2 separate regions of the Homo sapiens genome follow, and region 2 is linked to region 1. The links come from fine-mapping of genetic effects on gene expression. A gene starts in region 1. The other region holds a variant in brackets. All regions are shown on one strand. Distances are between the middles of the regions. Region 1 holds the start of MYO3A (myosin IIIA). Region 2 holds the start of LOC124902396 (a long non-coding RNA gene).

Region 1 (5,384 bases):
GGTGGATCACAAGGTCAGGAGATCGAGACCATCCTGCCCAACATGGTGAAACCCTGTCTCTACTAAAAATACAAAAATTAGCTGGGCATGGTGGCGGTGCCTGTAGTCTCAGCTACTCGGGAGGCTGAGACAGGAGAATCACTTGAACCTGGGAGGCGGAGGTTGCAGTGAGCCGAGATCGTGTTACTGCACTCCAGACTGGCAACAGAGTGAGACTGACTCCGTCTCAAAGAAAAAAAAAAAAAAAAGTTCTCAATTTTTTTTGTCTTAGAACCTTCCTTTATTTACACTCTTAAAAAGTTTTGAGGACTCCAAAGAACTTTTATGTTATAGCAATTAAAACTGAGAAATTTTAAAAATATATTTCACTACTAAGCTCATTACATGTTAACATGAATAGCATATTTTTAAGTGAAAAATACCTGTATTTTCCAAAACCAAAAAAGTTTAATGGTAAGAATGGCATTATTTTATATTCTTGCACATTTCTTTAATGTCTGGCATAACAGAAGACGTTACCTGTTTCTGCATTCAATCTGTTGTGATATCACATATTATGGAGCCACTGGAAAACTTCATCATAAATTCATTTAAAAAATGGGAGAGAAAAAGGAGTGGAAAAAAGTCTTATTATTAAAGTAATTTTGGTCCTGTGAACCTCCCGAAATGGTTTCAGAGACCGCCCCCTGACCCCCAACAAATTTCCCCTAGACCACACTCTGAGAACCACTGGACTTAGCTCTTCTAGCTTCTGTAGTTTTCATATGAATTCTAGAATATATTTGTCTCTTAATTTGGGAGGTAGTAATTATGTGTTTAACATCTTGTCTTCTAACTTAGGATTCCAGTGTCTTTCCAATTATAAATAGTCTGTCAACAATCCTGCATTTTTAAATTTTTTCCCACTTTTCTCCTATATTTCTCATTTTTTATCATTCTTAGTTATTTCATGTTCTTTCATGCTTCTATTGTGAATGGGATCTATTTTTCTATTGTATTTTAATTGGGTGTTGTTTGTCTCTATTGAGATTGTGACTTTATTTTGCATGTGAGCACTCAGTTGCTCTAATTCTTAAAATCTCCCAGGTATGTCCAAATGGCCATAATTATGTTGAATAATATATTTGCTGTGATCTGTTTTTGATGAGATAACTTCTTGATTTGAAGCTGTTCATATATGTTAGGCTTTTGATTCAATATAATCCCTATTACAAGTCCACTATTCAATTTCTAATTTTTTTTTTTTTTTTTTTCGAGACGGAGTCTCGCTCTATCGCCCAGGCTGGAGTGCAGTGACGTGATCTCGGCTCCGTCACTGCAAACTCTGCCTTCTGGGTTCACGCCATTCACCTGCCTCAGCCTCCCAAGTAGCTGGGACTACAGGGGCCTGCCACCATGCCCGGCTAATTTTTTTGTATTTTTTAGTAGAGACGGGGTTTCACTGTGTTAGCCAGGATGGTCTCGATCTCCTGACCTTGTGATCCGGCCGCCTCGGCCTCCCAAAGTGCTGGGATTACAGGCGTGAGCCACCGCGCCCGGCCCAATTTCTAAATTTTAAAGCTACTTTAAGAGGAAGGGTCTTGAATATACTGAATGACCTTTTGAAACAGATTTTTAACATCACATTTTTTCCTTAAGATATGCATTGATTAGGATTAGATGACCTCTCTTTGGTCTCTTCTATAATTCTCATTTAGATAACATGAACGACAGACCCATTGAGATAATTAACAGAATCAAAGGATGTTTTGGTTGTAGTTCTCACCTGTTCAATGGATGAAGGTATAGCAATACCCAATATGTCCCTAGAGACTGTTCAAGAGAATCTGGCCATCAGGGTCCCCCCAGGTGAGCCCTGTGTGACAGGAGACCACAGAAGGTCTGGAAAGGATTGCAAAGGACCAAGTAGAGGGTTGGTGACTAACGGGCTGCCTCCCGAGGGTAGAAGTTCTTGCCTTTAACTTCAGCCCCAGCCCCAAACTCCTTAGCAGTCTGCAAAAGGGAACTGGACCCTGGGAGCGATCTCATTAGCCACTCACTATCCCTCTTGGACCTGAAACCCATTACATTTTCCGGGTCCGAGACCCTCGTAGTGTGGGGAATTTCCTGGGAGGAAGATACTACGCGGGGCCGGGAGCAGAATTTGCTCCAGGCACTGGGCCAGTCCATGAGGGCTCCAGGATCCAGGGGCCCCACTCCCTTCTCGCCGGGCTCCGGGCCAAGGAAGCGCGGCCGGAGTCCCGGGAAGCCCCTCGGCAGCCAGCCAAGGGCCCTGCGAGGATGTGGATGGCGCGGATGGCGCGGCCTCCACCTGCGGGCAGTGGAGAGAGCGGCGAGAGGAAGAATATTCCCCGCGAGCCGGGATAAGGGGCCCCTTCGGCTCGGTTGACCCAGGTCAGATCCTCCCGCCGACCTTCGGCCCGCCCTCTACAGGCGGCCCAGTTCTTCCCCTGCTCGGCTGCCCCTGCCCGCCCCTCGAGGGAGCGCCCGTAGCCAGCGCCCCCGTAAAGAAATAAGGAGGCGCCCGGCTTCCCGCCCAGGTACGTGTCGGGACAGCGCAGGGGACTGGCTTGGGGCGGCGGTGGGTAGCGGCGCCCGCGCGGCGCTGGAAACGGCCCCGCTTCCTTGGACCCCGGGGCTTGCAGGGCGGGCCCGGGGCTCTCTGAGCGCGAGGCTGCCGCGACCGCCCGCCCGCCCAGGTCAGATCCGGAGGACCTGTGTGTTTGTCGGGGCCTGGGGTGAGAGAGGGGACTCGAGGGGAGAAGTAGAGCGGGAAACCAAGAGGGGGAATGTGAGGCTTGAACGAGCTGGATGGGAGAGCTCGAGGGGAGGAGAGGGATGAACTTGAGGGGGAAACGGGGGCGGGGGTGAACTCGAGGGGGAGCCAGGAGGAGGGAACGGGAAGGGTGAACCTGAGGGGTGGACTTGAGGGAAGATCTTGTGGGTGAACCCGAGGAGGGAACGCGAGGGGATAGTGAGGGGGGATCTCGAGGAGGGAACGTGAGGAATGAACTTGAGGAGGGAACGGGAGGGGTGAACGTGAAGTGGAAACAGGAGGAGGGAACGGGAAGGGTGGCGTAAGGGGTGAAGGAAGATCTTTAGGGGTGAACTTGGGAAGGAAACGTAAGGGGAGGACCTCGAAGAGTAACGAGGGGCGAGAACTGAGGGGGCCCTGCAGGGAGACTGGAGGGAGGAGGCGCCGAGTCTGGCGGGTGTCGCCTCGGAGACCTGTGGCGCGCGCGGGCTTTGCGGCGCCGCCCACAGGTGGCGCTGGGTCGGCCCGTCCCTGAGGGAACTGCGTTCCGGGTGATTTCTCAGAACAAGCAGGTCGGTGGAGCTGGGCTCCCTGCAACCCCAAATGCATCCGTAAAGGAGTTTTAATTTTAAGGAGAAAGAGCAGACAAGAAAAGTATGATCATTATTGAGAAATAGAGAAACCTACCAGGAAAGGATGTCCTTTCAAGTCTGCTCACCAACAGCTCTGTTCTGTTCTCCAAGTAGTTGCTAACTCGCACCTTGCTACTATCCCCCTTCCAGAAAAAAAATTTTATTATTGTTAGAATGGAAATTGGCCATAAGCCTTGAAATGACTGTTGTAATGCCACTGAACCCTACACACTAAGCGTTTTTGAAAACTCAAAAGAATCTTCATTTCTGGTTGTTTCTAGTTTTCTTGGTGAATTAACTAATTGTACAGGTGCACTTAAACCTTCTTAAGCATTTTTATAATTCAGACGGATCTGGTAGCTTGAGAGTTGTTTAATGCCAGCATATGAAATGAGGGGCTTTAAGTTCCTTGTTCATTGTGTAAAAGTGCGAAAACTTAGTTACTGAGGAATAAACTATTTGTCTTGCCCTTCTACCTAGAAGTTTCTAAGTTCAACTTCTGATTATTTTCCCCAGATCCTGAATGTTTACTCCCATAAAGCCATGATCTTTTTGTTTTGGGTTACAGGCCCAGGGCCCCAGTGCAGCCTGGACACAGTATTCAAAGTTTTGGCGTCTGAGCATTGTTATGCGTTATTTTCAAGCTTTGCTAACGGTAGGTGATAAAATTGACAAGTGTTCTGGGTTTGCCAGAACCTAAGTGCCAAGTTTTGACAGATAAATTGGGTGCATGTTATTCGTGCCATATTGATTTTTATTACATTATAAAAGATAATTATTTTAAAATGGGAAAATTTACAGATGCATAAGCTTTCAAAGATAACATGGGCTTTATGAATATATTGATGAGATGTCTAGCATGTGAAAAATTACATTCATTTGTCTTAGTCCTTTAAAATTATTATTTGGGGACGAAAATGCAAACTAAAAGATTCAATTTTGTAATCTTTAATATCAACTTAATATATATGTGTATATATACATATATTAAAATTTGGTCATGTCACATAATTTGATAGCATCATCTTGTCCTTTTTCGACTGCATCTTTATAGCCTAATTTTTTTTTTGCATATATTCTTTGAAAAATAACTTTCTCTGTCAAATCCAAAATATTTGAAGGTCCATTATTTGCTACAAGTGGTTTTGATAAATAAATATTTGGAGGCTGAAATACCCTTTAGAATGTATAGTTCTTTTATATAAATCATATAAAGTTTGTAAAATGTTTATTATGTAAATAATTTTTGCAGTGTTATTTCCAGCTGCGTTTTCTTTTTCTTTTTATAAACAAGGATCCTTTCATTAGTTTTGTCCGGGAATTGATAATTTGAATGATTGTACCTAACAAACAAACTCCCTCCCCCTAGTAATAGGAAACAAATTCAGTTATTCATTAGAGGGTAAATAGAAGATTTCTGATAAGCTTTCAAATTGATACACAGACGATCCCTTACTACTTTGGCGACACATTGGGAGTTAGGAACCTCAAGTTGGGAAGCATTACTCTTTTGAACTAAAATCATCTATCATTGGACACGTAATTTCTACCATGAACTTAAACATTATGACCTTAAAAACTTTCTAATCTTCAGTTTTCTTTTATGAAAATATGGGTTACAGTAATGCTTTTCTAAAGGGCTTCTCCTGATAATTAAGTGACATACTGCATGTAAAACTTTAAGCACAGTAGGTACCTGGAATATGGTAAGCAGTTAAAAAAAATAGCCACTGTTAATATCCATTTTTCCTGATATCTGAGGGTGATTAGACAATGTCGATATGTTTATAGTTATAGATCATGTCTTGATAAAAAATGCAGAACCTCATATAGAAGTCGTATGCGATAGTTTCAAGCCTGAAATTGGCCTTTAGAAATGTTTCTTTGGGTCAGCTCAGTACTTTAAAATAATTGATTTACTTACCGGTATTTTCAAATTAGTAAATTTTGTGTAAGTTCCTGGAGTCCTGGCTTCTCCTGAAAAAAATGGAGGACCA
Region 2 (5,384 bases), 35 kb before region 1:
AGCCTCATCTAGCTTTGTGATTCGTTATCATGCAACATCAATGTTTCCATTGTCGATCTGCTGTTTCAGATAACAATGCCGTCTGGACACTTGCCTGCTGGCCATTTAAGAGATTAGGGGCTTTTTTTTTCCCTCCTTAGTCTACCACTGTGTTCATTCCCAGCTATACAGTTACCATTTGTAAATCAGTGAAGCAAGAAATTAAGGACACACTAGCAGCCCTGCCTGTGGAATACCAATAAAGACAAAGGTGTAGAGTTGCTTTGCTGCCTTATTGCTGCCTACCATACACCCAACTAAAACATCACTCCTCCAAATGAGCACAGTTATCTCAGTCACCAGGAGGAATAAATGAGGCACAGTGATAACCAGATTAGGATACAATGAAATAAATTTTCTGGATTTTATAGTATGAAAATGAAAACCTGTTTATTTTCTAATGCTTTGTTTTCATGTTTTTGTGGTTTGATTCTTAGGTTAATTTAGATTTTAATTCTATGCTGTCTGGGGTGGTTCCCTAGCTTTGCTTTGAAGTGCAAATTGTTCTGCACAAATGACACCTGATAATTAGGAAACAAGGGGGTAAGAAAGTTGTTGAAATACAACTGAGCGATTCTCTTTGTATGGAAGAATCAAAATCTACCTTCCTGGTTAGTTACACTCTCCTGCAGATGCTCTGATGAACTGTCTCATCAGTAAGAAGCCACCAGCATGTCTGTATCCTGCCAGTATATTGTGTACAACATATATTCTTCCCTCTTAAAAATCCAGGGCACGCAAAAGAAACAGATTCATACGTAACAACATTTGGGAAATGACACAAAATCCTCAAACTCCAAATAGTTTCCTAGGTCATTGGACCATTCTTCCAAGTGTTCTGGCAGCAGAAAATACTAGTCCATTGACATGTAAGATTTTTTGTGTTGGGAAATTACCCTAACAGACATTATGATGTAATAGAATGCTACAATAATGAAAACTGCATGGCTGTGGCAAAGTAATCAGCAGACAGAATGAACAGCCCTGAAATTTATTTGAAAATAGAATGTACATAGGGAAGGGATGCATTTATTTCATAAATTATATGGGAAATTGGCTAATTACTTGAAACAATAAACAAGAGCTTCAGCTTATAACATGCCCCAATTAAATTCCAAATGAGGAACTAAACATAATAAAGGAAGCCGGTAGAAAACTAGAAGAAAATGTGAAATAAATAATTAGTTTAGTGGGGCAAGGACTTTCTGATATAAACATAATGGAAGACACTATAAATGTTTAAATGATGACAGGTTTACATAAACCAGTATCCACTAAAAGAAACTAGGACTCTTTGGAAAAATGGCAGATTCGAGGGCTGGGGTAAGAAAGTACAAGATGGGTCTAGAACATCTCATTGTGCCAGAAAATAAGAGCTTAAAGAATATGAAGATACGTCCAAATGATATAGGAACTTCCACTGGCCAAGTCTGGGATTATTTGAACATAAATATAAATGATAATAATAGATTATACCCTATCGAATCAATTAGGTATCCATGAGTCTATATTGATATAAATTAATAATGAATAATTAAAATTTTGAGGGAAAGTAGGATAATGTAGTGATATAGGAGTTAAGAAGAAATTATTTAGGCAGATAGTGAGGGTAAGACAGCCCACAGTACTGCTTTCTTTTTAATAAAAAGCAGCCTCCAAATCATTTCTTTTCTATCAAAAAAAAGCAGCCTGCAAAATAGAGCTGCAAGCATAGATAAGCAAGCTCGAAGCTTGCACAGGTGAATGCTGGCAGCTGTGCGAACAGGGAAAGGCTACCTGGGGGCCAGGCATGTGTAACATGGCGGCTCCATCTTCCCTTTCTTTCGTCAACCACGTGTACAATAAGGAACAGACAACATGGCCCTGGACAGGTAGAGAACTGATCTGCAAAATAAAAGATTAGGGTGGGGTGGCCAGCTTCTTCACGTGCTATGTAAATGGCACATCTGGTCCAACCAATCTTTGGACCCTGTGTAAATCAGACACAGCCTCCTCAAGCTAGTCTATAAAACCTCCACCCTTCCCTCTCCCGCAAGCGATTCTGTTTTTCTTTCAGCTATTAAACCTCTACTCTTTTTCTTTTTCTTTTTTTTTTGAGACAGAATCTTGCTCTGTTGCCCAGGCTGGAGTGCAGTGGCTCCTCTCTTAAACTCACTTCTTGTGTGTCTGAGTCCTCGATTTCCCTGGCCTGAGATGACAAACCTGGGGTATTTACCCCAGATAAAGACGAATGATGCTGCTTCAGTAGGATAACACAGCTTCAAAATCCTTTCCTTCAAAACACCGTTACTGAACCAAACTTAGGTCTGCCCACCCAATGAAACAAAGCCAAACGCTAATATCAGGATTTGCAGCAAGAGAAAAGTGAGGCATTTATTGCAGGGCGCTCATGCTTAAGACCTGAACTCCCCAATGAGTTACATGTAAGGGTTTTTAAAGGCAGTGAGGCAGGGGTTCCAGGCAAACTCATAAATCTATACATGGAGGTTATATATTGATTCGACTTAAAAAAAAAGAAAAACGGACATTTTGAAGCGGGGGCCTACAGGTCCTGGGTGGATTCAAAGATTTTCTGACTTGTGATTGGTTAAGGACAAAAAGATTTGTCTAAAAATTTGAGGTCAGCAGAAAATAATGTTAGCTGTGGCCCGTGGGTTTTACCCCCTCCAGGCCCCTCAGGAAGAAATTTAGAAGAAAGAAAGGTGGTCACAGTTCAATCCTCGGTTCCCTCTATGTGCCAGTGGATGGCATTTTCCATCTCATGGGAAATGGGGTTTCTGAAAAACAACTCGGGGATATATGTTAAGCTGTTATCTTTTGTTTCTATAGGAAACCAAACATCTTGTGACTCTAACTTCCTTGTCTGTTGTTTTAAGCTACTATTACCTTCTTGCTTATCAAATTGCTCATTTACTTCTCCAGGCTAGCTAGGTGCCTGGAATTTCCTTTGAAATAACTCAAGATTTCCCTTTCTTTCCATGCTTGTGGGGGATGGGGCGTTGGGCTGGC[G/A]GGCCCCTGAGAGGCATCACTCCTCCATCTCAATACTATACTCACTAAAGACAAAAGGGAAAAGATAAACTTTACAGTGAAGGATCCTGACAGATATCACCTTAATCAAATGTTTAATGTGCCAATCACTAGTAATAGGACAAATCTAGGTAGTGTTCTGCCTGGTAAGAGATGATGAGAAGACTAGAGCCTGCCCTCTGTGATATCCCTGACAAAGGTGCATAACCTGAATTTAATCATGAGGAAACCTCAAAGAAACTCATGAAGGACATCCCAAAAAATAATTGATGTGTAATCTTCAAAAGTACCAAGGCTGTGAAAATCAAGGAAATACTGAGGAACTGCTCTAGATTTGTGGACACCAAAGAGACGTGACAATAATATGTAATGCGATTCTCAATTAATCATTTTACTAAAATACATTGTTGGGACTACTGGTGAAACTGGAATGGGGTCCAAAGATTAGATAACGATGATGTAGCATGTTAACTTCCACCAATTTTCCATGGTGGTATTGTAATTATGTAGAAGAATATCTTTGTTTATAGGAGATGCACTAAAGCATTCAGAGGTGGCGAGGCCTCCTGTAGGCAGCTTAGTCTCAAATGTTTCATGAATAAAAACATTCTTGCAATTCTTTATAAGTTTGAGATTGTTTCAAAATAATAATAACCTTAACCAAAGAACAAGTGTATCTGTTCCAAATTCTCTTTTCCCTTCTGCTAGTTAGGTACATCTAAATATTGTGTTTGTATCATAATATATTTTTGGTATATCTGTTACCACAGTTTAATCTTCCCTTGCACAAATTTAAATGTCAAGCAACAGGGAAATTATTATGCCATAGCCATATCCTAGAATATTATAAATATTTTTAAGTGTTTTTGTTTTGACAAATAGGTAACAACATGGGAAGATTCTCTTGGTGTTCTATTGTTTTAAAATGAGAGTAAAGTAAAATAGTATTTAAAAAATTAATGTGATTCTGAAAATACTTTTACAACCTAAAAGGAAATATGCACTTCAACCAAGGTTATATCTTGGTAGTGTGAATATAGGTGATTCATTTTCATTTTTGTTTTGGCATTATGTCTCAATTTCCTATAATGACCATTCATTTGTAAAAAAAACATTGAAATTGCAATAGCAATTAACATAAAGTGATATGAAGAGGAATAAGAAAAAACTGTTGATTAAAGAATGAAAGAGCACAGGGAACTTCACCTGAAAATATGGTATATGGTATACTGAGTGTTTTGAATTAAAGATCAGACAGACCCACCAAGAACAATGGAGAACAATCCATCTCAACCCCCACACCCCCAAATCCTCTCCCTATCCCAAAGCACAGATAAAGTTGTCTTATCTACCTAAAATCTAGACCTAACAGAGAAGAAAACAATAACCTCAGGTCCTTTCTCTTAAGTTTTCATTTGCTGAACCCATATCACAGGAAGGAAGACTAAAGTCTGACAACAAACCTGGATAAATTTTTGTCACAACCTTTATCCGCTCTGAGGGCCCAACAGACTTTGCCCTAAACCATTGTATGTTCTTCAAGCCCACTGAATTCCCCTAAAAATTATTTACTATCTCCATAAAATGATCCACACTTTTCCCTAAGAAGTAGGGTATGTAAGAGGCTGTATCCCACTGGGACATTAGGCAGTCACTCTGTGATTCTCCCTGTGTACATGGTAGTAATAAATCTGCATGCCTTTTCTCTTATTAATCTTCTTGTTAGTTGATTTTTCAGCAAACCTTCCAAGAGCAAAGGGGACACTTTCCCTTCACCCCTGCAGAAGACGTCTCCGAGGAAGTGAAACATTGGTGGATATATGATAGAAATCATCATGGTAAAGAAAGTATTACAGTAAGACTGAAAACCAACCATTTTGCCCAAGGGACAGACCCTCAGCTGTGACTCTGCACCTGATCTCTGTGGCTTTGCTGAAATGTAGCTTTAACCCTGGAGTACCCTAAAGGTGAGCACCAGCGCGATGGAGAGGTGAGAGCACAGACTTTGGCTGTTGGCCTCAGTTTCTTCCTCTGCAGTTTGGTGTGAAGCTCAGAGATGGTGCATGGAGCCCCCAGAGATAGTAGCTGGCACCTGGAGACCCATGCCCTGCTTGGGCCACACCTCTGCTGGTGCAGGGAAACCTGGGCAACCCGAGGTGGACAGACCAGTTCTACTGGAAGCTGGTCCCCATCACCTGTACTTTTCCCACAAAAGACTCCCTTCCTTATCCCCTTCCTCACTCACCCACAAAAGAACCCTTTCCTTATCCATGACCTGTACTTTACCCACAAGAAACCCCCTTCCTTACCCACTCCCT

What was found. PIP is the estimated chance that this variant, and not a neighbour inherited with it, causes the effect. A credible set is the group of variants that fine-mapping cannot tell apart.
Region 2: its variant is the best candidate, but not a certain one, in a credible set for the expression of MYO3A in aorta (GTEx, PIP 0.72).

Annotation. Positions count from the first base shown.
Region 1 is chr10:25,931,789-25,937,172 of GRCh38, forward strand. It overlaps MYO3A (myosin IIIA), which reads left to right and starts at 2,441. Exons shown (of 35, transcript NM_017433.5): 1 at 2,441-2,540; 2 at 3,956-4,042. It overlaps LOC101929073 (a long non-coding RNA gene), which reads right to left and starts at 1,922. Exons shown (of 4, transcript NR_120650.1): 1 at 1,766-1,922; 2 at 520-573.
Region 2 is chr10:25,896,478-25,901,861 of GRCh38, forward strand. LOC124902396 (a long non-coding RNA gene) reads right to left here and starts at 886. Exons shown (of 5, transcript XR_007062091.1): 1 at 644-886. It overlaps LOC124902397 (a long non-coding RNA gene), which reads left to right. Exons shown (of 2, transcript XR_007062092.1): 2 at 4,793-5,384. RefSeq lists an enhancer at 5,051-5,160. The variant G/A (reference allele first, on the strand shown) is at 3,049.